6 separate regions of the Homo sapiens genome follow, and regions 1, 2, 3, 4 and 6 are each reported to be linked to region 5. The links are microRNA targets in miRTarBase. Many come from high-throughput screens and were not tested one by one. Region 5 holds a microRNA gene; each other region holds the end of a gene's coding sequence.

The links. The annotated mature microRNA hsa-miR-4468 reads AGAGCAGAAGGAUGAGAU and lies in region 5 at 3,328-3,345, opposite strand. An mRNA with a match to its seed (bases 2 to 7 or 8) in the 3' UTR can be bound and repressed. Matches are read on the target gene's strand: a 7mer-m8 pairs with bases 2 to 8, a 7mer-A1 pairs with bases 2 to 7 and ends in A, and an 8mer does both.
Region 1: miRTarBase lists SH2D4A as a target of hsa-miR-4468. Seed matches in the 3' UTR shown: 8mer at 731-738.
Region 2: miRTarBase lists CYP8B1 as a target of hsa-miR-4468. Seed matches in the 3' UTR shown: 8mer at 1,223-1,230 and 8mer at 2,118-2,125.
Region 3: miRTarBase lists ZNF843 as a target of hsa-miR-4468. The part of its 3' UTR that is shown has no 7-base or 8-base seed match.
Region 4: miRTarBase lists TFCP2L1 as a target of hsa-miR-4468. Seed matches in the 3' UTR shown: 7mer-m8 at 4,004-4,010 and 7mer-m8 at 868-874.
Region 6: miRTarBase lists PER1 as a target of hsa-miR-4468. The part of its 3' UTR that is shown has no 7-base or 8-base seed match.

What each region holds. Positions count from the first base shown.
Region 1 is chr8:19,394,112-19,399,178 of GRCh38, forward strand. It overlaps SH2D4A (SH2 domain containing 4A), which reads left to right. Exons shown (of 10, transcript NM_022071.4): 10 at 439-2,107. The coding sequence ends at 531. Among named protein-coding and RNA genes, the nearest start is that of SH2D4A, 83 kb to the left of the region's middle.
Region 2 is chr3:42,869,903-42,874,974 of GRCh38, reverse strand. CYP8B1 (cytochrome P450 family 8 subfamily B member 1) reads left to right here. Exons shown (of 1, transcript NM_004391.3): 1 at 1-2,783. The coding sequence ends at 664. Among named protein-coding and RNA genes, the nearest start is that of CYP8B1, 3.4 kb to the left of the region's middle.
Region 3 is chr16:31,431,392-31,436,463 of GRCh38, reverse strand. It overlaps ZNF843 (zinc finger protein 843), which reads left to right. Exons shown (of 2, transcript NM_001136509.3): 2 at 1-1,030. The coding sequence ends at 661. Among named protein-coding and RNA genes, the nearest start is that of COX6A2, 5.6 kb to the right of the region's middle. RefSeq lists an enhancer at 483-983.
Region 4 is chr2:121,220,035-121,225,106 of GRCh38, forward strand. TFCP2L1 (transcription factor CP2 like 1) reads right to left here. Exons shown (of 15, transcript NM_014553.3): 15 at 1-4,353. The coding sequence ends at 4,307. Among named protein-coding and RNA genes, the nearest start is that of TFCP2L1, 63 kb to the right of the region's middle.
Region 5 is chr7:138,122,076-138,127,147 of GRCh38, reverse strand. MIR4468 (microRNA 4468) reads right to left here and starts at 3,390; the gene lies at 3,327-3,390. It also overlaps the pseudogene RCC2P3.
Region 6 is chr17:8,136,311-8,141,382 of GRCh38, forward strand. It overlaps PER1 (period circadian regulator 1), which reads right to left. Exons shown (of 23, transcript NM_002616.3): 23 at 4,162-5,030. The coding sequence ends at 4,758. It overlaps TRS-CGA1-1 (tRNA-Ser (anticodon CGA) 1-1), which reads right to left and starts at 2,652; the gene lies at 2,571-2,652. It overlaps TRT-AGT5-1 (tRNA-Thr (anticodon AGT) 5-1), which reads right to left and starts at 3,215; the gene lies at 3,142-3,215. RefSeq lists silencers at 2,522-2,581, 2,602-2,771, 3,132-3,181 and an enhancer at 3,579-4,257.

The DNA of each region.
Region 1 (5,067 bases), not on the chromosome of region 5:
CCCTCCCATGCACAGTTCACAATAAGGTTTGTGTTCCTATGAAAATCTAATGCTGCTACTGATCTGACAGGAGGCAGAGCTCAGGCGATAATGTGAATGACAGGGAGCAGATGTAAATACAGATGAAGCTTCACTCCACTGCTCACCTCCTGCTATACAGCCCAGTTCTAACAGGCCACAGACTGGTACTGGTCCATGGCCCTGGGGTTGGGGACCCCTGACCTATGAGAATTCATAGGCCTTAAGTTAGAATTCAAGCCCTGAAGGGAAAGGAGTACCTGGTCACATGTAGATAAGAAAAATGCCTTTTAAGATGATCATAAACCACAAAAGCTTTGTGTAAATCATGGGTAGGCAGCTAGTGATGTCCTCTGAGGAAGTAGGAAGAGCATGTGGTCACTACTTACACTATCTGACCCCGTGCCTTCTGATTGACAGGAGGAACCCATCACTTCCCTGGGGAAGGAGCTCCTTCTCTATCCCTGTGGTCAGCAGGACCAGCTGCCTGACTACCTGGAGCTGTTTGAGTGACAGCCTCCATCAGGGTCATCCTACAGCCTCCAAGCGGGCTTTCCCCTGGACAAATGCCACTGCAACATTTATGTGTGAAGCCAAAATCACCCTGCAGCAGAGCCAATACTGATCAACTGAAAGTAAAGTATCCATGGAGTCCTCATTGACACCTCTTTTCTGCACAAATACTGGAATTCAATGTCAAGAGAAAATGACCTCTGCTCAAAAGGGAGAAGAGTCTCAATTTCAGCAAGTACCTGTCATGAAGGGTATGACCTTAATGATGTACATAAAATAAAACAAATGAAGAAATGGAAAACTTTTAGAAATTAAGGTGTACTTGAAAACGAATATCTATCATATGACCCCTGCACTCCCTCTGTATCATCTCAGGAGGTTTCAGGGGCCTGTTGACATGAAGTTTCGAAGTTTCATGTTGGCTTTGGAATGGTAGCAAAAGCCTTTCCTGGCTGAGATGATGCTTAAAACACACCTCACTTATTGTACATGTTGGAACCAGGACATGAGAGACATAGAAAAACAGAAGTCATGAATGTAAATTGAATGAGAGGCTTAACATGCATGAAAATACAGATGGACCTGCAGGAAAGTGAGCAAACATCGCTGAGTTTGTTTTCTTGTTCGGGAGAATGGGGCCGGGGCTGGCCTGGCCTCCCCTGGATATACTCTATAGTGCACCAAAAGGATAAAGCATCTGTACATGTATTTTTTTATTTTTTATCAGAAGTGCTTAGACAAGAACAGAATAAGCAGGCTGTTTGGATGCTACTTGTGGTTGAATTGTGTTCCCCCAAAATATATGGTGAAGTCTTAACCCCCATCCCCGTGAATGGGACCTTGTTTGGAAATAGGGTCTTTGCAGATATAGTCAAGATGAGGTCACATTGGATTAGGGTGGGCCCCAAATCCAATGACTGGCATCCTTAGGAGAAGAGAGAGTTTTGGTAATAGACACAAATGCAGTGGGAAGAAGACCAGGGGACAAGAGGCAAGTTGGAGTGATGCAGCCGGAAGGGAAGGGACACCAAGGATCTCCGGCCACCAGCAGAAGCCAGCAGAGAGGCATGGGACAGGTTCCCCACAAGCCTTAGAAGGAAGCATGGCCCTGACTTCAGAATTCCAGACTCCAGAACTGGAAGAATAAATGTCTGTTGTTTTAAGCTGCTTAGTTCATGCTGAGTTCATGCTGACTTGTTACTATAGCCCCAGAAAGCTAATACAGTCGTTTATGTAATTACATAACCTGACACACAAGATCGACCCATTCACTGCTGCCCAGTCCACCATTTTCATAATGAAGTAGAAATGGGAGGTAAGAAAAACATTCCAGCCAGTTCTGTTTAGCCCTGGCACACATATTTGTCCCGTCAGGAATCTTATGCCCTCCTGGAACCCCCGCCCACCTCAGTCCAGTCCCAGTCAGGCGAACGGCCTCTGGACAGGGACTGAGGTGGCTCTGAGCCACTGGAGATCATTTTTCTTGGAGGATGGAGATTGGCTAGTACCTCTGGCCTAACTGTGTAGGTCAATACTCTTTTACATTGCCTTCTAATAAAAGCAGAATGATACAGCAGTGTTGTTACAAGCTTGTTGGTTGCGTACAGCACTCATTGACTATAAAATGTAGCCAGAGAAGGGGATGGTTGGCATGTGTGTTCTAATGAGAAAGATGATGGTGATTATTATTTTTAGAGACAGAGTCTTGTTCTGACACCCTGGCTGGCATGCAGTAGTGCGATCACAGCTCACTTCAGCCTCAAGCGATCCTCCTGCCTCAAACCCCCAAAGTGCTAGGATTATAGATGTGAGATACTATGCCAGGTAGAGATAGCTTTTAAACATAGATCATTGTTTAACTCTTTCTTGAAATGTTCCATGTGGTTTATATTGTTAAACTATTGTAAGGATCCATCTCTTGGCTTTTGTTCCTATGATTCAACAGTCATGGCATTATTGAGAAACTTCTCAACTCTTCCTACCATTTTCTGTATAATCTTGGACAGGACAGTTTGTCTCTGAGCCTCAGTTTTTGCTTCTGAACAAAAAAAAATATGATTCAACTGGGTGATCTTTGTTATTTTCATCCAATTCTGAAATTTTAAGGTTCTAGTGCTTCTCACTGGAATGAATGGAAAGTACCCACTTGTCACCACTAATAATTAGGAAGATGTAAGATTCCAGTACTGGCCAGGTGCAGTTGCTCATGCCTGCAATCCCATCAATTTGGGAGGCCAAAGTGGGTGGATCATGAGTTCAGGAGTTCAAGACCAGCCTGGCCAACATGGTGAAACCCCGTCTCTACTCAAAATACAAAAATTAGCCGGGGACGGTGGCATGCACCTGTAATCTCAGCTACTCTGGAGGCTGAAGCAGGAGAATTGCTTGAACCTGGGAGGCGAAAGTTGCAGTGAGCCGAGATCACACCACTGTACTCCAGTCTGGCTACAAAGCAAGACTACGTGCTGGGGGAAAAAAAAATCCAATACCCCCCTGTGCCTACAGTTATCTTGTAGGAAATAATTGTGGCCATATCCAGATATAACTACACAAAGCAACATCCTATTAAAGGAAGATTTAGAAAACAGGAAGTCACCCAACTGAATTCACCCAATATTACACAGGGGAGCAGATGTGGGTTCCGGACTAGTTTATCCTGTTGGTTGCTGATTGATAGAGGAATACACTGTCCAGTGTTGGATGATATGATGGCACGAATGACACTTGAAATTCTTAGGGAAGGAGAATGGTTTACAGATTTCAGAAACTGAATTCAACCGAATGGAATTCAGGAGGCCTGAATGGTCATCCGAGCAGTGCTGTGGTCTCTGTCCTGCCTACATTTACCCTGAGTTACGGTCTGAGGTGAAGATGTCCAAACTCTGACCCTGGTCTCCTCCTCCTGTTGCCTCTGCAAGCCCAGCTCCTTGACCTGCCTGCGCAAGGTTTCTGGGTCTAGGAATGCTGCTTTCATGTTACTGTCCTGGTTCTCAAGCCTAGGGGCTCTGGTCTGCAGACCCTGACTCACTGGGACTGTGGCCAAATACTCCTGCCCATCTAGATTCTTCTCTCCCACAATTCTGGAATCTCCCGCCCACAGTCATGTAAGATTTTCTGGCTGCCACCGTATTGCCAGATGCTCACAGACCTATCAGGTCACTTGCAAGGACCCTGCTTCTGGCCTCCTGCCCTACCCTGCTGCAGTAGGATGCACAAGGAAGGTCGCTTGGCCCTGAGTGTCACCAGCAGTGCTAGTCAGTCTGAAAAAGTGTTTTCTGGCTGGGCACGGTGGCTCATGCCTGTAATCCCAGCATTTTGGGAGGCCAAGGCAAGTGGATCACGAGGTCAGGAGATCGGGACCATCCTGGCCAACATGGTGAAACCCCGTCTCTACTAAAAAAAAAAAAAAAAAAAAAATACAAAAATTAGCTGGGCTTGGTGGCACATGCCTTGTAATTCCAGCTACTCAGGAGGCTGAGGCAGGAGATAGCTTGGGAGTCAGAGGTTGCAGTGAGTCGGAGGTTGCAGTGAGCCGGAGGTTGCAGTGAGCCGAGACCACTGCACTCCAGCCTGGTGACAGAGCAAAAGTCCGTCTAAAAAAAAAAAAGGTGCTTTCTGGCCCAAAGCTTACCCTAAAAATGGAGAAAACACAGGGCAAGTTAGGAAAAAAAGGATCAGAGAAAGAAAAAAGTAGATGGGCAATGGTCAGTCAGGTCACCAAAAATACCTCCGGGACATTTCCACCCAAAATTGCCTATCTGAGCTAATGCTTTGGAATTAAGCATCCTTTGCTAATATGACATGAAATCTGCTTTTAGATTAAAAAAAGAAAAATTCATGGCTTAAAGTTTTGCAACTGCCACCTTTTGTAAAGGCAGTTTTCTTAATGCACTGGAGTTCTAACATGTTTATGGCCCACACATACATATTTTGGGGCTCCTGCTATTTGGTGAGAGAAGACACAAATGCATGGGCTATGCATGGATATGTTTCCATGGGGCCTCTTTGCTTTCATATTTATCCAGAACGTGGTACATGCTTTCCTTTCAGGCTGCAATTCACAGGGTTTGTTTTGTTTTGTTTTAGAACATACGTTTTCAACGACTGTATCTTTAAATAATCTGTTTGAATTTAGCTTTTCTCTTCCTTGGGAATAGCTATAAATGTTGGATTTTTCTTTGCTTTTCATTTGGTATTCTCACCCCCATTGTTTTCATCTCTCCCTTCTTTTCTGTTGTATTTTGGGAGAGCTCTTGCATCTGTCCTTTTCCCATCAGTGATTAAATTTTCAGCAATGTTAATTCTGCACTTCACTGCCTCCAGGTGGATTTTAGTACCACTTTTACATGTCTAGCTACTTCCCATCCTACCTTCTCTCCCTATGCAAAGATCTTTAGGCTTCCCACTGCTTCCCCAGACTGACAATTGTCAGGAAGCTTAAATGATAAAAGTACCCTGTTTTAATTGTGGTAAAAACACATTATTTGATAATCAGGCTGCTCAGTATAGTAGAGAGCAGGCCCAGCAGGTTTGGGG
Region 2 (5,072 bases), not on the chromosome of region 5:
GGCCTCCCAGGGGAACACGGGGCCTACCTCTTTCTGGGCCCTCTTGTACCTCCTGAAGCACCCAGAAGCTATTCGGGCTGTGAGGGAGGAAGCTACCCAGGTCCTGGGTGAGGCCAGGCTGGAGACCAAGCAGTCCTTTGCCTTCAAACTCGGTGCCCTGCAACACACCCCAGTTCTAGACAGCGTGGTGGAGGAGACGCTGCGGCTGAGGGCTGCACCCACCCTCCTCAGGTTGGTTCATGAAGACTATACCCTGAAGATGTCCAGTGGGCAGGAGTATCTGTTCCGCCATGGAGACATCCTGGCCCTCTTTCCCTACCTCTCAGTGCACATGGACCCTGACATCCACCCTGAGCCCACCGTCTTCAAGTACGATCGCTTCCTCAACCCTAATGGCAGCCGGAAAGTGGACTTCTTCAAGACAGGCAAGAAGATCCACCACTACACCATGCCCTGGGGTTCGGGCGTTTCCATCTGCCCTGGGAGGTTCTTTGCACTCAGTGAGGTGAAGCTCTTTATCCTGCTTATGGTCACACACTTTGACTTAGAGTTGGTGGACCCTGACACACCACTACCCCATGTTGACCCGCAGCGCTGGGGTTTTGGCACCATGCAGCCCAGCCACGATGTGCGCTTCCGCTACCGCCTGCATCCTACAGAGTGAGCTTGGCCAAGCCAGCTGCAAACCTGGCCAGAGGAGTTCTATTGCATCTCTCACCTGTTCTCACCCCTCTGCAGCCCCAAGACCCCACTGGCCACCCCTCCCTCTGGTCCTGTGGCACCCCCTACCTCTGTTCTGCCTGTCCTCGCTCTCTCCCCGCCTAGTCATCTGACAGGCTTATCATTCTCTTTAAAATACCATCTCTCAGAGTGGGTTCTGCCGAACCCTCCTCTCACAGGAAGTCCAGAGGAAGGGGGAGTATCTGTGGGCAACTTGGTTTGGGAGATGATGCCTGCCTTGAGAAGTCCTGAGTACAGAGACTGGTTCCCCCCAGACACGAGTAACATGGCATCTTGCAAACATCAGCCTCCACTCTCCCAGCTTGCTTTAGTTTTTTCAGCAACACTTATCCCACATCCTATGGAATTCAGGTTCTAGAACAGTGTCATCCAACATAAATATGAAGCAAGCTACATGAGTAGTGGGGTTTTTTGGTTTTGTTTGTTTGTTTTGAGACAGAGTCTTGCTCTGTCGCCGAGGCTGCAGTGCAGCGGTGCGATCTCTGCTCACTGCAACCTCTGCCTCCTGGGTTTAAGCAATTCTCCTGCCTCAGCCTCCCCAGTAGCTGGGATTACAGGCACCTACCACCTTGCCCAGCTAATTTAGTTTCCTGGTAAACACATTTTTAAAAAGTAAAATGAAACAATTCATTTTTATAATATACTTTACTTAATCCAATATATCCAAAATATTGGCATTTCAACGTGATCACTATTAAAAATTTTAACGTAATAGTTTTTACCTTCCCTTTTTCATCCTGTCTTCAAAGTCTGGTATGTACTGTACTTTTGCAGTTCTTCCCAGTTCAGACTAGCCACATTCCAAGTGCTTAATTGCCGTGTGTGGCAGGTGGCTGCCCTATTGGATAGCACAGGTCTAGAGAAATGATACCTTTTTTTTTTTTTGAGACAGAGTCTCACTCTGTTGCCCAGGCTGCAGTGCAGTGGTGTGATCTTGGCTCACTACAACCTCTGCCTCCCGGGTTCAAGTAATTCTCCTGCCTCAGGCTTCTGAGTAGCTGGGATTATAGGTGCGCACCACCACACCCGGCTAGTTTCTGTATTTTTAGTAGAGACGGCGTTTCACCATTTTGGCCGGCCTCCTCGGCCTCCCAAAGTTCTGGGATTACAGGCATGAGCCACTGTGCCCAGTCAGGATGTCTTTAATGTAGGAATCATTCAAGATCCCTCCTCAGTGCCCATGTCTCCCCCACCTCAGGGTGCTGTCAACCCTCCCTTGGTTTCCATGATCATTGCTGAACTCAGAGCTTTCTTCTATCCCCAGACCCACATGGGAGTCTCCCAGCACCTCTGACTCAGCTTGGCCAATGCAGAACTTGGCATCTGAACCCCTGCCTCTTCCCTGAACCACTCCTCCTCCTGATTTCCCTGCTCTCTCTGCTCAGAACACTACCATTCACCCCATCTCCCAGAGACACTCTCCCTCCTCCTCTTTCACCTTCATACAAGCAGGCCCCCGTCCTATCAGTACACCCCCCTGTGATGCCTCTGAAATATGTACCCTCCTCCCCTCTCCTACTGTCATTCTTATACCTGTGATCTCTGCGTTTCTCTTCTACACTGCTGCCAGAGGCCTTTTTGCCAAAAGCACTGCTGATTGTCACTCTTTTACTTTCCTGGTTCCCCTTTGACTTCACACACTTGACGTTTACATTTTGTCACAGTTGGTCCCCCTTGCCTTCACATACCTGATGTTTAAATTTTGTCACGGTTAGTCTCCAAACTTCTCAACTTTGCCAGCTTTCTCCAATGAAACCATCAGTAGAGACATTGCTGTTCCTGCCCATCCCAGTGCCAGCTACTCCTTCCTGGAAGCCTTCCTGGATTTCACGCATCCCATCCTCTGGCCAGAAATGGCCTCCGAACTGTGCAGCTCCTGCAGCACCATTTGTATCATAGCATATCTGTTATGTGTCGTTGCTTTCTGTGTCTTGGTTTCTGCCTGCTGCCCACTTCCCTAGACTGGAGCCTACTGGGGCATGGTATTTTATTCATTTCTGACCTCCAATTCCCTAAGTGGAGATTAAATGTTAGAAACCTGACTTCCAGTCTCGGCTAATTTACTTTCAGTCCTCAAATCATTTCCTGGCCTCAGCCCTCCAATCTATGAAATGAAGACAATCCCCCTTCCCAGCGTGCTTATCAGTGCTACAAGAGGGTGAGGGGGTGGCTGCCATAGCTGCAGCTGGCTGATGGCAGGGCTCCAGCTGGAGCTGGGACAGGAGGAAGAATGACTGTGGGAGCTGGATAGAGTGTCTTGGAGGAGGTGGGCCCAGGCTGCATGGACCCCCCGACCCAGCGACCAGCCAGTGGAACTTCTCTCTGCTACTTTTATCTTACATCTCTGGCAGCCTCACATTTCTCCTGAGGCTGGCTGCCTGTTCTGCTCTGCCAGGAGAGTAGGCAAGGGCCTGAGCTGGGGTGACAGTCTGTCTCCAACTAGCTATGTGACCCTGGTCCAGGGCCTGCATTTCTCTGAGGTCAGCTGCCCGCAAATGCTGATGTCTGCCTAGGGCTTGATAGAGCTCTGCCTGGTTAGGAGAAGCTGAGATATCCCATCCTATTCTACAAGGACCAGGAGCACAAGGAGAAGAGTTGAGTAGGGGGCATAGAAGGAGGAGAAATGGGCTGGAAGGTGGAAGACTATCCATGGGAAATGTACCAATGACATCTCTGCCCAGCCAGGCCCTGTGCCCAGTACAATGGGGCTGGGGCTGTGGGGAAGCAGGAACAGAGCCTTAACACACCTCCTTGGCCCTCCCTAGACCTTGGTGCTGTGTCTCCTTTTGTGCCTCACACCCAAAGGAATATGGGCCAGGAGAGTGGCCTATGGATTGGCTGGGGTGAGGCTGAGGGCTGGAGTTCCCTGAGTCAGGACCAGAAGGTCTCAACTGAGAGTGACCATGTGCAGATAGGAACTTAATGGACCCTGTGGCCTGTCTGAGAGCTCCAGAGGAGATGCTTGGGACCTAGAGAAGCCTCAGCGGGTGAGGTGTGAGGTGAATGCAAGTGTACCATCCCACAGTCAGGGATATCCAGCATAACAACAGGCCTCCCAGGAAGCAAGAGCCCCCCAGGATTGGAGTGTGGGCAGGGATCCCAATGCCCCATGCCCGCCTGCTTGCATGGGAGGGGCCCATGGGCCATATAGCTCTCTGCCCCCTGCATGAGGACTGCTGCAGCCAACCCTGGCAGAGGCCTTGAGGCAGGAGGAAGACTGCGACCGCCAAGGATGCCTCTAGTCACCACCCACCCAACCTGGTCATTCTGTCCCCAATTCCTCATTTCTATGCCAAATATTTTCTTCCTCTCATCCTTTTCCTCATCAGGACCTCAGAGGAAAGCCCACTAAATGCGTTCTCTCTGAAGATAGTTTATAATAAAGCAAGATCGGGGTGGCTTTCCAATGGTGGAATTTCAGGCACCTGGGAAAGAAAAGAGATGCTTTTCTCATAGAGAATTAACTGGAGTCAAAACATCACATTTCGTGGCGTTCAGCACAGGCAGCAGCCCTGCCCACAGGCAAAGCAACTTCTACACTTCTCCCTAGGTTGGCCCATGGGAAGAGTCCACCTTGCCTCAGAGCCTGAGGGTCAGAGGAATTCTGATTGCTTTCCTGAGACCCCTGGGAAAGGTTTGAGCAGTGCAGTCAGGGAGCCAGACTTTGTCAGGCCTCTGGGAAGACAGAGAGCAACAGGAGGGACCAAGGCCCAAACCCGGAAGTAAGGCTGGGGTGGAGAGGGCTTTATCCTGGCCTGGGCTGTGAGAGCTGCTGAGCTGCTCTCAAACTATATTGCACCTAAGACAGTGACAGAGAACCAGGTACCTGCAGCTAGCTCTTGCCCTCTCCTTTGGACATAGGCTTCAGGGCACTACTTGTTATATTCCTGCCTTTTGCGGCAAGTACACACTCACACATACACAGAGAAAGGCATGAAAGACAAATAGGACTGGGCGAAGTGGCTCATGCCTGTAATCCCAGCACTTTGGGAGGCCGAGGTGGGCAGATCACTTTAGCTCAGAAGTTTGAGACCAGCCTGGCCAACATGGCGAAACCCTGTCTCTATTAAAAATACAAAAATACAAAAGTTAGCTCATGCCTGTAATCCCAGCTACTCTGGAGGCTGAGGCACAGGAATTGCTTGAACCTGGGAGGCAGAGGTTGCAGTGAGCTGGGATCATGTCACTGCACTCCAGCAAGACTCCGTCTCAAAAAAAGAAAGAATAGGAAAGTTGCAGGCACATAACCAGACCCACTTGGACACAGTGATACAGCTGCATCATAACCACATACACAACCATATATACTACACACAGCCCACATAGCACAC
Region 3 (5,072 bases), not on the chromosome of region 5:
GGAAGCTGATCGGCCACCAGCGAATTCACACAGGAGAGTGTGTCCCTTCTGCTGCTGCAGCTGCGGTGACAGTGTCAATGAGAAGACCTCCCTCTCCCAGCGCGTCCTTCCGCACCCAGGGGAGAAGACCTGCAGGGGTGGGAGCGTGGAGAGCGTCAGCCTCGCACCCAGCTCAGTCGCCCCGGACAGCACCTCTGGGCTCCGGCCCTGTGGGAGCCCCGGGTCCTTCCTTCAACATCTGCCCCCATCCACACTCCTGCCCCGACCTCCCTTCCTTTATCCTGGCCCCCCACTCAGTCTCCAGCCTCTGGTTCCATCCGGCCTTCCCGCAGTGCCTGCAGTGCCTCTGGGAGGCCTGGAAGTTGCCCAGGTTCCGCCAGCCACCCAGCCGGCAGCTCAGCAGGAGGGGGCGATGGGGCCCAGAAGCTGTGCGAGCGCGGGACGGGACTCGCGGGAGGCGGTTCAGGCCCCAGGCTACCCTGAGCCAGCCCGGAAGGCCTCGCAGCACAGAGCGGCCGGACCGCTCGGCGAGGCCAGGGCCAGGCTTCAGCGACAGTGCCGAGCTCCTCCACCGCCCTCGAACCCACACTGGAGAGGAGCCCTACCAGTGTTTCCGGTGTGGAAGGCCTCCAGCCGGAGGTCCAACCTGGCCCGACACTGAAGAACCAGCGTGCTGCAGCCCTGGGTGGAATTGTTGCAGCCGCCGGTGGACTGTGGATCTGAGATGCAGTCCCCTCCCTCCACACAGACCCGCTCAGGACGGCTTTTCTGTATGGCAGATCTTTCTCAGAAGTGCTGGGGGCTATTTTGTTTGTTTTTTTTCCCCTGAATTCTCGCTCCTTTCCCTTATACATTAAGGGATTTAGGCAGGTGCGGCTGCGGGCGGTGACTCACACCTGTAATCCCAGCGCTTTAAGAGACCGAGGTGGGAGGATCGCGTGAGCCCGAAGAATTTGAGACTAGCCTGGGCAGCCTAGCGAGACCGCATCTCTGTGAAATAAAAATAAAACGAGCTGGTGTGGTGGCGCTGGCCTGTAGTCCCAGCTACTCAGGAGGGTGAGGCGGAAGGATCGCTTGAGTTGGAGAGTTCAAGGCTGCAGTGAACTATGATCAGGCCACTGCACCCCAGCGTGAGAGACAGAGTGAGACCCTGTCTCTCTAAAATAACTAAAATAACAAAAGGATTTAGGTAGGTAGTAGGCAAAGGTATATTATCGAAGTAACAATAATATACAAGGTATATTATCGAAGTAACAATAATATACAAGGTATATTCTTGGTGTGGACAGGAATAATATTGTGTTATCTTAATATTAGTGATTATTTCTCTCTCCTTTTTTTTTTTTCTTGAGACGGAATCGTGCTCTTTTGCCTAGGCTGCAGTGCAGTGGCATGATCTCTGCTCACTGCAACCTCCATCTCCCGGGTTCAAGCGATTCTTCTACCTCAGCCTCCTGAGTAGCTGGGATTACAGGCGCCCACCACCACGCCCAGCTAATTTTTGTATTTTTAGTAGAGAGGGGGTTTGACCATGCTGGCCAGGCTGGTCTCGAACTCCTGACCTCAGGTGATCCGCCCACCTCAGCCTCCCAAAGTGGTGGGATTATAGGCATGAGCCACCGCACCCAGCCTCTCTTGTGCTTTTTAGATAAGTATTTTTAAAAGTGTTTGTTAGTTGTCGGCTGGGCGTGGTGGCTCACGCCTGTAATCCCAGCACTTTGGGAGGCAGAGGAGGGCGGATCACGAGGTCAGGAGATCGAGACCAGCCTGGCTAACACGGTGAAACCCCGTCTCTACTAAAAAAAATACAAAAAAATTAGCCGGGCATGGTGGCGGGCTCCTGTAGTCCCAGCCAAGCTGGAGGCTGAGGCGGGAGAATGGCGAATGGCGTGAACCCGGGAGGCGGAGCTTGCAGTGAGCCGAGATCGCGCCACTGCACTCCAGCCTGGGCGACAGCGAGACTCCGAATCAAAAAAAAAAAAAAAAAAAAAGTGTTTGTTGGTTTGTTGGTTGTCTTAATGATGTGCTATTAGAGTGAGGAAGAAAAGTTACCCTATGAGAATTTAAACTGCATGAAAGTCTGTGGTAGCATTACTGGTTCAGTTCCAAGCTTGCTACCTCAGTCCTTGATGCCTCTTTCTCCCAATCCAAGTAGTATCAGGCACTGCCGTCTACTTGTTGTACCTCAGAAGAGTTTTTCGACAGCACCCCGTGCCCTCTGTGGCCTGTGCTCTCTCACAGGTGCAAGTCCTGTCATCATGAGCCTGGACTGTTGCAGAAGACTCCTAGCCAATCTCCCCTGCTTCCCGCCTCTGCATTCTGGTTCAGCATCCATAGAACCTACCAGTTATTATAGATTCCTCCCTCAGACTCCAGACTCCAACACTAAATCTGATGTCAGTCTCCTGCCTGAAAGGATCTCCTGCCTGCCACTCCCACCCCTCCACCCCCTCCGCTGACCCCAGCAGGGCCTACAGAACAGGGTTCAAATGCTTTAGCGTGGCATGCATGCTTCTCCATTGGGCTTCGCCTGACCTCTGTGCCTTTGCTGGCCAGGGCCTCCTGCACCTCTGTGTCTTTGCACTTGATTTATTTCTTTCCACTGCCCAAAATGACCTTTCCCCTTTTCTGTCTCCCAGACTTGCCCTACTCATTCATATGAGCCCCACTTCCACTTAGAGACTGCCCCACCTCTCGTGTCACACCTGACGTGGTGAGTGCTCCAGTGGCATTAAGAACATAGGGCATGTCTGTCTGGTAACCTATCTCCCCAGCAGACTGAGCTCCACGAGAGCAGAGACCCTGGTGCAGGGCCTGGCTCACAGTGGGTGCTCAATTAATATTACTTATGTGAAGGAACCACTTCCAGCTGCTCAAGTATTCTATGCTAAAACTTGGGTTTCTTTCATCCTTGTTGTCCTCCCAAGATACAATGTGTACATAATTGGAAAGTTAGCCAAGGTGACTATGAAGGTGACCCCACCCAATCAATCTATGTCTTCCTGGTTACTGTGCCTGTCATTCGATGATTCCACGGTTATGTCTATAGTGATAACAGAAAAAAGCAACTGAAAACAATATTATTTACTCGGGTCTCGTGCATCTCCTCCACACATTTGTAGAAATGAGATTACCACAAATTGCCAAGATGGTTACATCAAATTTTCAGCAGCATCAGTCATAGGACAAAAAGGCCTTTGAGTGTATTTTTAATAATCAGCATTTACTGGTGGCAAAATACTGGTTTAGAAAATATCTGAGATTATGGTCAGGCACGGTAGCTCACGCTGGTAATCCCAACATTTTGGGAGGCTGAGGCAGGTGGATCACCTGAAGTCAGGAGTTCAAGACCAGTCTGGCCATAATTTCAGATGGTGAGATTATAGTGAAACCCCATCTCTACTAAAAATGCAAAAATTAGCTGGGCGTGATGGCACACATCTACAATTCCAGCTACTCAGGAGGCTGAGGCTGCAGTGAGCTGAGATCGCACCACTGCACTCTAGCCTGGGCAACACAGTGAGACTCCATCTAAAAAAAAATCTGAGATTAATAGGTTGCCATTTTAGGCGCTCTTTATAGACCAGCTGGCCTAGTGGTCCTGGTTCTGTAATATGTGAAGTAAAGGTCTCGCAGGGGAGCACCAGTTTCAAACTCTGTCCTAGTTTGCAGCCTTGGCTGGAGTGACCCCAGTCATGAGGCAAACTGAGCACAAGTGTGCAAGTGTCATGGATTCAGCCAGAACATCAGTGTTCCCAGCATCAGACACAGATTCGGGAGAAATCAAGTCACAGTGTAGAGATGTATTGTGATGTGTCACTACACTATTATGAAATGGAAGAAAATAAAATTACAAGCCTCAACCTTTAAACATTTAGCAACTTGGGCTGTATCTCAATGTGTAATTTATTTGTCTCACTTCATTTTCACAAACATTAAATCCCTTCATATCAAGTGCCTATGAGGTTTAATTCATTAAAGGCATGCATACTCCAGAATGTTTATTAAATACATTTCTATCATTTCTACAAAAGAAGCCCCAAAACTTCAATAAAATATGGATCACAGTACAGGGGAACAGAAATCAGAAATGTGCTGGTAAAAGTTTAGAGATGTGGTATAGCTTCATAAAAAATGTTTAACAATAAATTAGGACTTAAAGCCCCATTTCTAACTGGCTTTTACGAATAGGGGATTTGTTATTTCACATAACTGAAAAGTCTTAAGAGTTCAGCTCTTTCTCAATTCCGGCACATCTTGACTCAGGGATTCACATAATATTAACAAGGCTAGATCTCCCATTTTTCAGGTCTGCTCTGAAAATGGCTTCAATATTGGCTTCAATTGAAGGCCCCAGCCTGAGGCTCCAGCAGCTCCAAGTCCAGTTGAAGTATAATTGTGTTTCAACAGTCCAAGAGACAGGCCTGAAAATTGGAACTCATGGACTTGTGCCCCTCCCTACAACAATCATCCCAGCCTGGGCAACACAGTGAGACCCATCTCTACAAAAAATTAAAAAATTAGCTGAGCACAGTGGTTTGTGCCTATAATCCCAGCTACTTGGTAGGCTGACATAGGAGGAATGCTTGAGCCCAGGAGTTCGAGGCTGCAGTGAGCTATGAACACACCACTGCACTCCAGCCTGGGTGACAGAGCCAGACTCTGTCTCAAAACAAAATACAAAAAACAATCACTACGGCCAGGTGGGGTGGCTCACGCCTGTAATCCCAGCACTTTGGGAGGCCGAGGCAGGCAGATCACTTAAGGCCAGAAGTTCGAGACCAGCCTGGCCAACATGGTGAAACCCCATCTCTACTAAAAATACAAAAAAGTAGCCAAGCATGGTGGTGTGCACCTGTAATCCCAGCTACTCAGGAGGCTGAGGCTGAATAATCACTTGAACATGGGAGACAGGGGTTGCAGTGTGCCAAGACTGCACCACTGCACTCCAGCTTGGGGGACAGAGTGAGACTCTGTCTCAAAAAAAAAAAATCACTATGACCTGGAGAATAGAATGCTCTGATTGGGTAGGCCTGGATCATGTGGCCCTTCTTGGAGCTAGAGGAGGGAGT
Region 4 (5,072 bases), not on the chromosome of region 5:
TCTGAGCGCCTAGGGACTTTCTCCCTCTGCTCCACTGACAACAGCCTAAGAGGCTTTTCCGTTTATTTCATCGACTTGTTAATGATTTTCAGATCTTCAGTTACTCAGGCCAGCCCCTGAAGCAATGCTGGACTTGGAAACTTGTGACCCTGGCTGGCTCCAGTCCACTGCTGGTAAAGCCTTCCCTAGGTTAATAGCTCTGTGTAAGGGGCTCTGGGCTGTCTGGGCAAGAGGTCACTAGGGCAACACCTGACCTTTGTTTAGGACCCCAAGTCAAAGCCTCGACCTCCCCACCCCATCCTGTCCTTTCCACAGGCATACCATGCCCCTCCTCCAGCAAACCTATTATTCCTCCATTCAACAGCCTCTGTCCCTTCATCCAGAAAGGACAACCTGGTAAACAGGAAAGGGTTTATCTCAACCTTGCAGATACCCCGCAAAAACCGTGACGACCTAAGAGTAAGGAACTCAGCTTTGGGCTTCCAGTTCAAGATGGTGGCCTGAGCACATGTGTCTGTCTTATTTCCCTCTGGGGTTCACTGTAAAAAGAAGCTACAGTTCAGAAGCCACAGGTTGGTGGGAATGCCCTGGGAAGAGCTGTCCTGCTCAATAGGCCAGCACCTCCGGACTCACAGGAAAGACCCTGGACAGCTGTGGGAAGGGCTATGGCTTTTCTGTATGTCAATCAAATGAAAAATAAAACCTGGAGCTTTAGCTCATCTGACCCCTGTGGAAGGGATGAGCTGCTAAATTAGGCAGCTGAGATATTTTGGTACCAAATTACCATGTGTACTTTTTTTTGGTATTTATTATTTTCTATTCTTTCATAAGCTATAAGCTTTAACTACAACCACGAGAAGGTAAGAAGAGCAGATGCCAGGGGCATGCCAGAAAAATGGAAGACTCTACTAATAGCACACTTAAGGTAACAGACTTTTATTACATCTTCTTTTGGAACTTAGAAGACAATATTAGCCTCCTACACTTTTGAGAATTAAAATTTAGCCCACCATCATTTGGCCTTGGTAGTGACATCACTTGGGTACAGTGATGACAGACAGCCTAAGGGGCTGGACCTCAGAAGACTAAAGGTCTAGTCCTGGTCCTTCCACTAATGGGCTATGGTGACCCTGAGCACATTATTCCACTTCTAGGTGATTCAGTTTCCTCATGACTCATAACAGGAAATCATTGGTCTCAACCTTCCTCCAAGGACTAGTGTGTGGAGCTAGAACATGCACCAAGGAAGACTGGGGAACATCAGAGAGAGATAGGACTCAGTACCGTTGACTCAGGTAAAGAGGGAGACAGCAAGAACAGAGTAGAAAGGCAGCATAAAACTGGTGGAACCAAACACAGACTAAGTAAAAAAAAAAAAAAGGTAAGCTTCCCAACGACACCATGTCCCAGGAAAGAAGATCCAGTAAGAAGCAGAGGCCTTTAGCAAGGATGCCAAGACAATTCCGTGGAGAAAGGATATTTTTCTCAATAATCAGCAGTGGGACAAGTGGAGATCCACAAGCAAAAGAATGAAGCTGGACCCCTACATCACATCATATATAAAAATATACTCGAAATGGATCAAAGACCATTGTGAGAACTAAAAGTATAGTTCTTAGAAGAAAACACAGGCATTAATCTTCTTGACCTTGGATTAGGCAATGGTTTTCTAGATATGGCACCAAAAGCACAAGTGACAATAGAAAAAAAATACGTATCTTGGAAATCATCAAAGTTAAAAAGTTTTGTGTCTCAAAGGACACCAACAAGAAACTGAAAACAATCCACAGAAGGGGAGAACATTTTTACCAGTCATATACCTGATAAAAGACTGGCGTCTAGAATATACAAATAGCTCACCCAACTCAATAATAAAAAGAAGGCTCATCCCTGGTAGTCTAGTGGTTAGGAAAACAGAAAACTTAAAAAAAAAAAGACAACTCAATTAAAAATAGGCAAAGGACCTGGATAGACCTTTCTCCAAAGAAATACGCATGGCCCGTAAGCACAGGAAAAGACACTCAGCATCAGTTGCCATCAGGGGAATGCAAATCAAAACCACAAGATAGCATTTCATACTCATTAGGATGCTAAAAGCAAAAAGACAGATAATAGCAAGTGTTGATGAGGATGTAGACAAATTGAAACCTGGATACATTGCTGGTGGGAATGTAAAATGGTACAGCTGCTATAGAAAACAGTCTGGCAGTTTCTCAAAAAGTTAAAACACGGAGTTACTGTAAGACCTAGCAATTCCACTCCTATGTATATTGCTAAAAGAAATGAAAACATATGTCCACACAAAATCTTGTAGAAATATGTTCATAGCAGCATCATTCAGAGTAGCCAAAAAGTAAAAACACACAAATGTCCATCAACTGATGAATCAATAAACAAATGTGGTCTATCTATACAATGAAGTATTATTCAGCAATACAAAAGAATGAAGTACTGATACATCCTCAACTTGGACGGCCCTAGAAAACATTCAGTGGAAGAAGCCAGTCACAAAAGAGATATCACATGATTCCAGATATATGAAATGTCCAGAGTAGGTTAATCTTACATAGAAAGTAGATTCATGGCTGCCTTGGACTGCAGGAGTTAGGAAAGCAGGAGTGACAGACCAAGGGTACGGGGTTTTACTGGGGGTGATGAAAATGTACCAACGTTGACTGTAATTCTGTGAATTGATGGTGGTTCTGTGAATACAATTGGACACTAGCAATGGGTAAACTGAATGGCATGTGAATGACATCTCAATAAAGCTGTTAGTTAACCCACTCCCCGCTTCTCCTCTAAAGAAGGAAGAGGAATCAGGAGCCTGTCCTCACTCTGTTCTGTAGGAATGCCACGGCTATTACCCAACATAATGACTAACAGAGCCCCTTTTATTCCGAGATGTCCTGGTTTATATGATAAATTTATATCGCTACCCTATCACTATGTGCTACCATGCAGGTGACTTTGCCCCTCTGAGCCTTGGTTTCCTCATCTATAAAACAAGTTCTCCCCATTGTAGACCCTGTTTTATTCTGGTAGTCCTTCAGTCTAGCACTTCATTCCACAGAAGCTCCATTTAGAAGCTATGACATCCCATTCAGGTGGTCAGAGGGTTCCCCATGAACCTAAATTAACCAAGAGCTGAAGCCCTGGGCCAGTAGAGATCACTGGATCCCAGGAACCAGAGGCAAGACAAAGACGAATTTCTGAGTCTACCACAGTTACTGACACTCAAATTTCCCGATAGTTAGGCCATTAAGAAAGATGATGCACCCATTCTGATGCAGGCAAAATATCCTAAACATAGCCTCTACAAACAAAGATAAACATGTAAGTGAGGGGCACTCAGAGAAAACACATCGCTCCTGTGGCAAGTTTAGCAGCGGTTCAACAAGGTCTTCTCTAACTTTCTATAAGTCCATCCAAGAGGGCCTGGTATTGTGGTGGTCAAGGTCATCTGATGACACCTAGGAATGGAATACTCATTCCTAATCCTCCTTACCCGTGATTGCCAGGAAATAAAATAGTCTTTTTCTATTACCATCCCCCTAACCTCCCCACAAAGGGCCTCAGAACTAATGTCTCTGAGAAAGGCCGTGCACATACATTGTGGCATCTACCATGCCAATGCGCCAGTGCAGAGACAGGAGCACATCTTTGGGTTCCGCAGCAGCAGATCCTTAGAAACAACGTAGAGAAGAAAGAGGTAGAAGGCACAGAATAGCCCCACTCCCATCAATTCATCCAAGAACAGGAAAGGCGGATGCTCACCAGGGTCACTGAGAAGGGAAGCAAACCTGAAACAGGAGAATGAGGGCAAACTGCTCCCATCAAGTCGGCAGTGCTGGCCATGCAGCCAACTCCCAGAGGAGGAGGTAAAGGTACCAGCTTCCAGGGTGAAGCAGAGCTTTCTCTGGAGGCAGGAGAGTGGTCAGAAGGGACCAATACAGGCAGCACCAAGATACCCAATCAGCTTCCAACTAAGGGATGAGGGATTTCAGAGCAGACGTCTCCACTGTTTGCCCTTTTAGAACGTCAGGGTTGGACCAATAGAAAAGAACAAGGAACCATTCAAAATCTGGAGGCCAAGAGGAAGGGAGAAAGGAGCCACTGGCTTTCTGTACACCGTACTTGGTGTCCACAGGCTTCTGCTGGTTGGTGCTCTGTAGCTTTCACAGACTGGGCAGGGTCCCTCCTGGCCTCAGCTTGCCTGGTGAGGCCACAGCTTACAGTGGGGCAATGTCTACATCCACGGGGATCCACAGGGCTGGGAGCTGGAGACAGGTATGAGGTCCACTGCTGCTCAGAGTCCACATTTCAGGATGATGTGGTAGCCATCATTGCTCTCAGCTGCAAGAGAGAAACACTGGGTGTATTTCACAGGAAAAAAGGTGCAGTGCCACAGTATTGGGGAGTCCCAAAAGGCACGCTGTTAGGGTATCAGCAAAGACCACCAAAATAGGGCTGCATACAGCAAAGCGTGCTGGCAGAAGCAGGGATCTCACATGCCCTGACATCTGCCTCGTTTAGTGTCTTTTTAACAATAGGTCTTTCTACCATAGCCCCAGGCCCAAGGATGAAAACCTACGTTCCAAGGAGGATTTGGACAACTGTGGTTCTCAGGGATATTATGGCCCCCAAGGCCCCAAAGACACTTGGTGGTGGCTGGGCGTGGTGGCTCACGCCTGTAATCCCAGCACTTTGGGAGGCCAAGGCAGGCGGATCTCGAGGTCAGGAGATCAAGACCATCCTGGCTAACACAGTGAAACCCCGTCTCTACTAAAAAAATACAAAAAAATTAGCCGGGCCTGGTGGCGGGCGCCTGTAGTCCCAGCTACTCGGGAGGCTGAGGCAGGAGAATGGTGTGAACCCGGGAGGCGGAGCTTGCAGTGAGCTGAGATCGCGCCATTGCCCTCCAGCCTGGGTGACAGAGCAAGACTCCATCAAAAAAAAAAAAAAAAAGACACTCGGTGGCTAGATCCACGGGACAAGGTGGGAAGTGGCCTCATCATGGTCCAGGGTCTATGAGTCGGTCAGAGGGCTTTTGTTCTGACATATCCTATACATGC
Region 5 (5,072 bases):
TCTAGTGTGGCCCAAAGCCCCAGATAAGCAAAGACATTCTTCTCAGGAATGACATTCCAAGGGCTTAGAGGTTATCTCCCAATAAGTGGTTAATGGCCAGACCTTTCTTTGGAAGGTGCAGGGTTTGGATTTCCCAGGTCAGCTGAGTGAACTGTTTAATAGGGTAATTTACAATTTTGTAAGAGTAGTTATTAACTAATAGAAACCTGGTAGTGATGAAAATGATTCTTGTCCAATAACAATGCAAATGGATCTTTTATTGTAGAGATATAAATTATTAAATCTGGTAGAAAAGATAAACTCAAAAGTTATATAGTTGTATTGCCTTTCAGAAGGCTAAACTGGTTTGGAGCTAAATGAGCAATTTGATCCAAGCATCCTTTCTTTCAGCTGCTGAAACATTTTACTTTCTCCAATTCTCTTGGTATTTCTCTTACCGTTTTTCTGTTTCCATCATTAATGAGATAATTAAATCACTGGTATGTACTCATTTTGTATTTACATAAAAATCATATTTTTGATTTTTTTTTTTTTTGAGATGGAGCTTCGCGCTTGTTGCCCAGGTTAGAGTGCAATGGCGCAATCTCAGCTCACCACAACCTCTGCCTCCAAGGTTCAAGTAATTCTTCTGCCTCAGCCTTCCCGAGTAGCTGGGATTACAGGCATGCGCCTCCACGCCTGGATAATTTTGTATTTTTAGTAGAAACGGGGTTTCTCCATGTTGGTCAGGCTGGTCTCGAACTCCCAACCTCAGGTGATCTGCCTGCCTTGGCCTCCCAAAGTGCTGGGATTACAGGTGTGAGCCACCATGCCCGGCCTGATTTGTAAAAAATTATACTTTGACAGTTTCTTCTCATTTACACCCTCTGATAGGCAGCAACCTTCTTAATTTTCAGTGCTGATGGAGATTTCTACTATATCATTTTTTTGGGAATCTGAAGTGAGGGAAGCAGGAAGCTAAAACCTAGTACTCCAAAACTCCTGTCAACCTAAAATAATCAAAAGGTTCAGAATCTAATTTAAAGAGAGTTTATTCAAGCTCAAACAGTGAGGACGGACCACCCAGAAACACCAACTCCAAAGGAATGGAGTCAGCATTTTGAAGTAGGGAAGTTAAGATTTCATTTATTTAGACAGAGACAGAGATTTTAGTGGGATTACAACACTATTTACACAAGGTTGGTGCATAGTTACAGCAATTTGATTGGTTATAGGCAGTGTTTCCTTTTGGGAAGGGGACATTTAACACTTTTCACAGAGGGTGTAATAGTCATGCGTTTTTTGTCATCTGGTCTAAGCAAAGTGAGGCAGCAAAGGGGAAGTGAATCTATGACCAGGGCCATTAATGAAGAAGGCAGGAGGCATTTATCTGTGGTGTAGTTGAATTCACTCTAGTCATTGTGCAGAACAAGAAAAATAAGAAAGTGAGTTAATCTATCTGAGAACAGAAGTTGTAACCATGTGTGACTCAGATCATAGTCACATCTCACTCAGGGCTTAATGTGTTCTGGGGGGGGTTCCAATAGCTTTTAAATTTTATTTATCTCCACGCCCTGAAAGTCCCTGTTGCAGACATCTCTTATTTTGCCTGCTTCTTGGGGCAACGTATTTCTGGTGATTGAGGCAGGATTGTAGTTCCTTATGATTCCTTTCTCCTTAGTGCTGCTCTTGTTCCACTCGCTCCTACCCTCTTGCCTTTCCATCCCCCTCCCACTGTCTCTCTCATTCCTCTCTTGCTTCTTCTCTGCACAGGGATGAGTTTATGTCTCAGGCCCTTCCATTCAGTCTGCCCCAGGCCATCACCATTGGTTCCAGCATGATGCATGTTGGCCAGTCAGAGTTCTTCCCAGGATTACTTCCTTGACAGAGCTATTACCAAAGACTCTCACTCTCTTCTGGGTTCCTAATCTGAGTGAAGGAGAGTGTTGCTGAGAGCTATCTTGCCTGCTTTCATGCCTGCTGTCTGGAGACAGCTAGTCCAACGGGGTGAAAACAGTCACAAGTTGTAAACACACTGCTTGAGCCCTAGTTCTAGCTGCTTACAGCCACTTTACCCCTGCACTTCTTTGTTTCCAGTTCTGTGACAAAGTGAATTCACTATTTCTGCTTAAACTAGTCTGAATTGCATTTCTATTACTAGGAACTAATAACATCCTGATGGAAAAATCGCTATGTGGAAGTGGGGCATAACAAGTGAATACTCCTGAAAGTTAGAATTGACTGAGTTAATTTGGGTGAAGCATAATGGGAAACACAGTCCTCACTGGGAGTCTGGATATCTTTTCCACTATTTTATAACAATTCATATTTTTTCCAAATATGAGCAAATATTTTAATTAAACATGAAGAGAAAAAAACAGACTTTTAAAAGTATGCAGAAAAGGATAATTAACATTGGATCCCTTGTAAAAATGGAACCTCAGGGAGTCTAACAAAAATGCAACTTTGGCTAACTTTTGCTTTTTAAAATTCCTTGTTTGACTTCACCTCCCACTGCACAGGAAATGACAGCTTCTGGGAGACGGGTGGAGTTGCAGGAGTCCCCAGGAGCATCAAAGGGTTCAGGGGTTGTATTCTAGCAGTTTCTTTCTTTTCTTTTTTCTTTTTTTTGAGTTGGAGTTTCACTCTTGTTGCCCAAACTGGAGTGCAATGGCGTGATCTCGGCTCACTGCAACCTCCACCTCCTGGGTTCAAGCGATTCTCCTGCCTCAGCCTCCCGATTAGCTGGGATTACAGGCATGTGCCACCATGCCCAGCTATTTGTTTGTATTTTTAGTAGAAACGGGGTTTCACCATGTTAGCCAGGCTGGTCTCGAACCCCTGACCTCAGATGATCCGCCTGCCTCGGCCTCCCAAAGTGTTGGGATTACAAGTGAGCCACCGCAACCGGCTCTAGCAGTTTCTTGATCTTCTCTTTCCTGGTCTCACTTTCATCTCGCACTATCACCAAGGAGTGTGAGTAGCCTATGGAGACCTGCTTTGAAAAGATGCCATTCAGAGTCTTCACCTCTTGGGCTGCAGTGGAAGACTTGGGCTCATGGTCCCTGTATCCCAATTACCTAAAGGTTGGTTATGGCCCTCAGCTGATGGTGTTCTCATTGGCGGCCACAATGTTGCTGCTCTTCCCACAAGCCAGGCTCTGGATTCTGCAGCCGCAGAGGTCCTGCACTGCTTTCAGGTACATGGAAGATTCATGGGAGATATTGGGCTCCCCCAGAAAAAGAGACTACCAACTTCACAGACAGCAAAGGACCAGGTGTAACCAACATGGATCTGGGATGCCCCACACCCAAGGAAGTCAGACTCCAACCTCACCAAGCGGGGACCATCTCATCCTTCTGCTCTGAGTGGCCCAGTCAACCATAGCCACCAAAGCCCCAGGAGAAGACTCATTTCTTGGAGTCCAGAATCAATGTGTGGTTAGCATTACAGGTCACGTCTTACACAACCGTTATTGGCTGGTGGGTTCTTGACCCTTAGTAAATAGAAATAGACCAAGAATCTGAGATGGGCTTGAGCAAGGCAGTTTATTGGAGCTCTCAGCTTGAGCAGAAGGGGAGGTAGCAGCAGGAAGAGACCTGCAGCTAGCTCCCTGACTGCAGGTTAGTTTGGGGTTTCATTTGCTTTGGAGCTCCTCCATGTGACATCATTGCATGTTTGGGGTGGTTTGGCAGTTGCACCTATGCAGTCTCTGGACATGCTTCTTCATGTGATGCATGTCTCATTAGCATCTTAAATCTCCACCCAGGGGTGTGCTTTTTACTACTGAAATGAAGCAAAGGCCAGGTTAGGACAGGCTAGGACATTACTGGGCAAGTGCATTGGGGAGCATCTTTTGCAAAGTGCCCACTGTTAGCCAAGATGCTTGTGCTCAGAATACTCTGTCTCAGATTTGATTGGTCTATTTTGTGAAAGGAAACGTTTGTGGTTGTGTGGCTGCAAGGTTGAATGTAGCTTCAGTCAGCACAGCATGTAAGGGAAATGGGGAGGGGTCCCTGCCTTGCTCTGGGGGTCTCACAACCACCTTTGGTACAGGCAGAATCTACCCATCTTTCATTCTCAGTGAAGGTGGGCCACTCATCGTGGCACCAGCACCAGCTCACAGCCTTAACTATTCACTGTGCCTGGGTCCCAGCTGACCACATTGAGGGCACACGAAGGAACAGAGGTCTCCTTTGTCGCCCATTATACGGAATTCATTTCCACTGGCCATTCTAGTAATTGGCTGCCCGTTGTCCATGATCTGTGCGGTGCTGGGGATGCTCCTGCGTGGTTGCTGAGGCTCAGCTGCCCCATCTTGTTCTCCCCAAAGGCAAACGCAGAGCCCGTTTCCGTCAAGGCCAAGGTGAGGTTCCGCCCACAGGCTGCCTACATACTCACTTCCCGGCAGAGACCCGCAATGAGTCTGGGGGCTTCCATTCTCTTGGTGTCACCAGGTCCCAGCTGCGCCTTCTTATTTTGACCCCAGCTCCGCAGCTTCCATCGTGTCGTGATGAGGATACTGTGCGCAGTGCGCAAACCCGAGACCGCTGTCCGCACCAGGACCCCGCCAGGCACCCACATCTATGGGGCCCCCACAAATTCTGACCGAGATTGAGGTAAGCAGCTTGCTGTTTAGGCACTTCTTTTCCACCCATCGAGTCCTAGTTGGTTGACCCCGAAATCAAAAACTGCCCCTTTGCACTTCGACCCTTGAAGTCTGATGCGCTCCTTGGTGTGCTCAGACTCCGCGACGACCGCGGCCCCGCCGCTCACCTTGTTCACATATGCAGCCAGCCACGCTGTGCCCTTGCCTCCGCCAGGGCCCCATGGAGCTGCCACAGCGCTCGGCCTCTTGGGCTTTCTGCCCGCACGCTGGGACCTCCACGCTTCCCGGGCCGCCTGGGGCCCCTGTGGTTACCGAAGCCCGGTTCTTCCCAGGCTACTGCCCAGTCTTCATCCTGGGCTTGTCTCTGCTGGTTGGAGTTATGAGAAACCAGACAGAAAAAGGAAGAGAAGTAACTGTTAAAAAAAGACGGATAGAAGGGCTTCCCCCTACACCCCTGTCCCTTCCTCTCCTCCCCAGCACCCCC
Region 6 (5,072 bases), not on the chromosome of region 5:
TTTCTACTAAAAATACAAAATTTAGCTGGGCGTGGTGGTGCACACCTGTAGTCCCAGCTACTTGGGAGGCTGAGGTATGAGAATCACTTGAACTCAGGAGGCTGCAGTGAGCCCAGATCACGCCACTGCACTCCAGTCTTGGAGGCAGAGCAAGACCCTGTTCAAAAAAAAAAAAAAAAAAAGTAGACTCTGGAACTAGCCAGGAAATAACTTAGGGGGTATTGCAATAATCTAGGTGAGAGATGAGGGTGGCTTGGACCATGGTGTAATGGCAAATAGTCAAATGTTAGACTTTTTTCTTTTTTTGTTTGAGACAGGGTCTCATTCCATCACCCAGGCTAGAGTTCAGTGGTGTAATCACTGCTCACTGCAGCCTCAACCTCCCGGGCTCAAGTGATACTCCCTCTTCAGCCTCCCAAATAGCTGGGATAACAAGCATGCTCAGCTAATTTTTTTTTTTTTTTAATCTTCACAGAGACTGGGGTCTTGTTATGTTGCTCAGGCTGGTCCTGAACTCCTGGACGCAAGAGATCCTCCTGCCTTGGCCACCCAAAGCGCTGGGATTACACGTGTGAGCCACCACACCTGACCCTAACATATTGTAAATAGAAATGGCTCATTTGATGTAGAGTGGGAGAGAAAGAGAACAATCAAGGACGACGCTAAGGTTTTTAGTCTAAATAACTGAAGGAATGGAATTTCCATTTATTGAGATGAAAGGATCACAGGTGAAGGAGGTTTGGGGAAGAAGCCTAGGCGTTTGGTTTGCACTTTTTTTTTTTTTTTTTTGAGACGGAGTTTCACTCTTTTTCCCCAGGCTGGAGTGCAATGGCATGATCTCGGCTCACCGCAACCTCCGCCTCCCGGGTTCAAGTGATTCTCCTTCCTCAGCCTCCCGAGTAGCTGGGACTACAGGCATGTGCCACCACGCCCGGCTAAGTTTCTGTTTTTAGTAGAGACGGGGTTTCTCCATGTTGGTTGGGCTAGTCTCGAACTCCCGACCTCAGGTGAGCCGCCCGCCTCGGCCTCCCAAAGTGCTGGGATTACAGGCACGAGACACCGCGCCCGGCCTTGGTTTGCACATTTTAAGTTTGTGATCTGTATTAGCTTTTTCCAAGTGTAGATGATATGTGGGCAATAATACATAAGCATCTGTAACTCAGGGGGGAGTTCTGGAGCTGGAGATGAAAATCTGGGATGTATTAATGTATTACCTGATATTTAAAGCCATGAAACTGGAAATGACCAAGGTAGTGGGTACAGATAGAGAAGAGGTTGGAAAATTGAGCCTTGGGAACAGTCCAACATTTAGAGATCCAGAAGGTGAGGAACAGCAAAGAAGTCTGAGAATAAGCTGCTGATGAAGTAGAAGGAATATCAGAAGGACGTAGTGTCCTAGAAGGCAAGCGAAGAGTGTTTCTAATGGAAGAGTGAGCATCGGTATCAGCTTCCACGAAGTAATGGTCAATAGATTTAGCAATGTGATGATCATTCGGCAACCTTAACAAGGGCAGCTTTGATGGGGGCGGTGGACACCTGATTAGCAAGGGTCCAAAGGAGAGTGGGAAGATGGAATTGGATAACTTGCTCTGTTTGCTGTAGAAGGGAGTAGAGAAATTGAGTGGTAGCTGGACAGGCGTGTGGGGTCAAGATAGCTTTTGTTGTCTTGCTTCTAAATTGGGGGAAATTAGTGTCTGTAGGCTGAAGAGAAAAATCAAGTAGAGAGGGATTTTTTTTTTTTTGAGATGGAGTTTTGCTATTGTTGCCCAGGCTGGAGTGCAATGGCGCGACCTTCGTCTCCCGGATTCAAGAGCTTCTGCTGCCTCAGCCTCCCGAGTAGCTGGGATTACAGGCGTGCGTCAGCCACCACGCCCGGCTAATTTTGTATTTTTAGTAGAGATTGGGGTTTCACTGGTCTCGGACTCCTGACCTCAAGTGATCCACCCGTCAAGCCTCCCAAAGTGTTGAGATTACAGGCGTGAGCCACTACGCCCGGCTGAGAGGGAAATTTTGATGGTATAGGAAAAAGCAGTGTCTTTGAGATGGCCAGAGGGATGGGAAATCTAGTAAAAGTAGGGGTTGGCTTTAGGTGGAAGCATTCTTCTACAATAATGAAGGAAAAGAAGAGTACGTGGTCACCGACTCAATTAGGTAGGTAGGTAGGTAGGTGCGATGTGAATGTTGATGGGGAACTCCGGAATGGTTTATTTTCTCAGTGAATCAGGAAGTAAAAGCTGAGAAGGGATTCGTAGTTTGAGGTGAGGGTAGGAATGAAACAGTCTCATGGGGCAGTATGAGAGTGAATGAATTGGAGGAAAGTAACGATTGCTGAGTAGCACTAAGGAGCCACCCGAGTGTGGTGGCGTTAGGAATTGAAATCCGCAGTAAAAAAGTTTTTGCAGGTCGATAGGACTATGAGAATCGCAAGAGGGCGCTCGCGGGCTGGTCCCTGACGGCCGAGTCTCTGAGATTCTCAGAATAACGCGGGAGATTCTCCAAGGAAAGAACCAGAAAACAAACTGCTTTTTCCTTCTCCAGAGACCGAGATACCTAAATACCAAAACTAGTGACGCTGTGAGCAGGATTCGAACCTGCGCGGGGAGACCCCATTGGATTTCGAGTCCAACGCCTTAACCACTCGGCCATCACAGCCGCGTGCGCTGTCGGCCCTGTGCAACTATAGCTGCCTATCAACACGCCCGCCTCCAGCCGGCTCCGCCCGGCTCCGCCCGGCTCCACCCGCGCCGCCTAGAGACGTCTGCGCTCGTGCGCCTCTGCTCGGTGGCGCAGACCATGCCTTCCCTCCAGCAGACGTCAGCAGCCCCATTGGAGCGGCAGCCTTCCTATTCTCCCTCTCCTCCCTGAGCATAGGATGGAAACAAAACGGGTCCAAATCCGAGCCCTGTCTTCCATACTCTTGAGGACAGACCCTGAGATGCCTACTTCAGGCTACTTCATGAAACCGAAGTGAGAATCTGTAGTTTCCAATACACACTAAAAGTGCAGGGAAACGGAGGTCCAAAGACGGATTGGCATGTAAGAAGAATCTTAGGGAGAGTCTAGAAGAAATGTTTCTTAGAAAGGCCCTTTGAAAGTGGAGAAGTGTACTTGCAGCAATAATATATCACTCCCCGCTAACTCAGGCACCGCTGGGATTCGAACCCAGGATCTCCTGTTTACTAGACAGGCGCTTTAACCAGCTAAGCCACGGCGCCGGCGTAAAACAGGTGTTCCTCAAGATAAATCAACTCTTAGTGGGTGACAGTAAGTGAAAATCAGCAAACTGCCTGCAGTGGTTCCTCAGTGACTCATCCCTTCCTAAGGTGCCTCTTCCCTTTCAGGTTCTGAGCCAAAGGGTTAATGCTTTGCTTCTCCATTCTTCCACACCTTTGGGGCCAACTCAACCATGAGTGAGCACATGACTCCATGTGTCCCTTAGCTACCTAGACTGACCTGCTGAAGGGCCCTCTCTGTGTGGTGACCAAGAAGCCAAGGAAGGCCGGGCGCGGTGGCTCACGCCTGTAATCCCAGCACTTTGGGAGGCCAAGGCGGGCAGATCACCTAAGGTCAGGAGTCCGCGACCAGCCTGACCAAAAATGGTGAAACCCCATCGCTACTAAAAATACAAAATTAGCCGGGCGCGGTGGTGGGCACCTATAATCCCAGCTACTCGGGAGGCTGAGGCAGGAGAATCGCTTGAACCCGGGAGGCAGACGTTGCAGCGAGCCGAGATTGCACCATTGCACTCCAGCTGGGTGACAGAGCGAAATTCCGTCTCAAATAAAAAAAAGGAAGCCAAGGAAGACAAACACCCTCGAATACCTCAGGGCACCACGGAGTTAAGCAGGGTTCCTCTGCCTTGGCCACCCGTGACCCGGGCTGGAGCTTACCCAAGCCCTTGGCCACACGCACCTCTCAGCTCTCCTTCCCAGGGCAAACCCAGCTGAGGCCATGCTAGAGGGGACAGCAGAGTCTGAGCTGGACGTGGACGTAGCGGGCTCAGCAGGGCCCTCACCTGGACAGGATGGGGGAAAAGAGGAATGGGGGTCGTCAGGAGATGGCCCTGTACACCCTCACTACAACCTTCCCAAAAGCAGGGCCACATCTCCCCTTGACATGCTCCCCTCACCCCAACCCCAAACTTCATTCCACAAAGTCCTGGGCGTTTTTATCTTTTTGTATTAAAAAAGTAGTAACAGACACAAATATCAAAAACACAAATGCCATCGGCAGAGGGTACAGCTGAGAACGCCTGGGTCCCACCTGAGGGGCAGCACCAGGGACTCCATGGTCCACCAACCTCCCCCACTCCAGAGCAGCTAGGGGCTGGAACCCCCGGGTCCTGCTTGGGCCTCAGGCTCTCCTCCCATCTGGGGAGGAGGTGGGAGAGAGAGCTGTCTCCCCGCAATAAATAAGTGCAGCCCCAACCCTCAAGAGTCAGATTCAGGCTCAGCTGGAATATGGAGAGGCCACTTCAGCAGCTTGTCAGCAACTTTGTCCAGGGGAGGGAAGGATTCCTCTCCAAAGGTGGGAGGTGACACTCCTCTGGGCTGGGCTGCGGAGTTCTGCTCTCTGCTCCCTAAGAGGCCAGAGGCAGCCCCTGGATCCTAGGCTGGTGATGGGGGTCCGGCCCCCTATGGTGGGAGAAGCTGGGGCAGTTTCCCACTGGTTGGTCTAGCCACATCTGAGTTCTGAGAATTGGGACATAGGAGAAGAAAGCCTCTCATGGACTCCTGGAGATGGTCCCAGAATGGAGTCTAGCTGGTGCAGTTTCCTGCTGTAGGTAAGGCTGGACTGGATGAGCTCCTGCCTTCTTCCTCCTCCTCCATAGCCAAGTCCTGAGAGCTTGAAGCCTTGGCCCCGCCTTGGGCCTCCTCGCAGCCCTCTCCCTCACCACTGCCGCCACCGCTGCTGCCCTGCTCGCCTCCACCCTCTTCCATGGGCTCCAGCCCCAGTCCATCCAGCTCTGAGAAGAGTGGGTCATCAGGGTGACCAGGATCTTGGGTGCTGCTCCCACAGTCCACACAGGCCTTGGTGAGAGAAATGGACATGAGAGAGTCAGACAGGGTTCT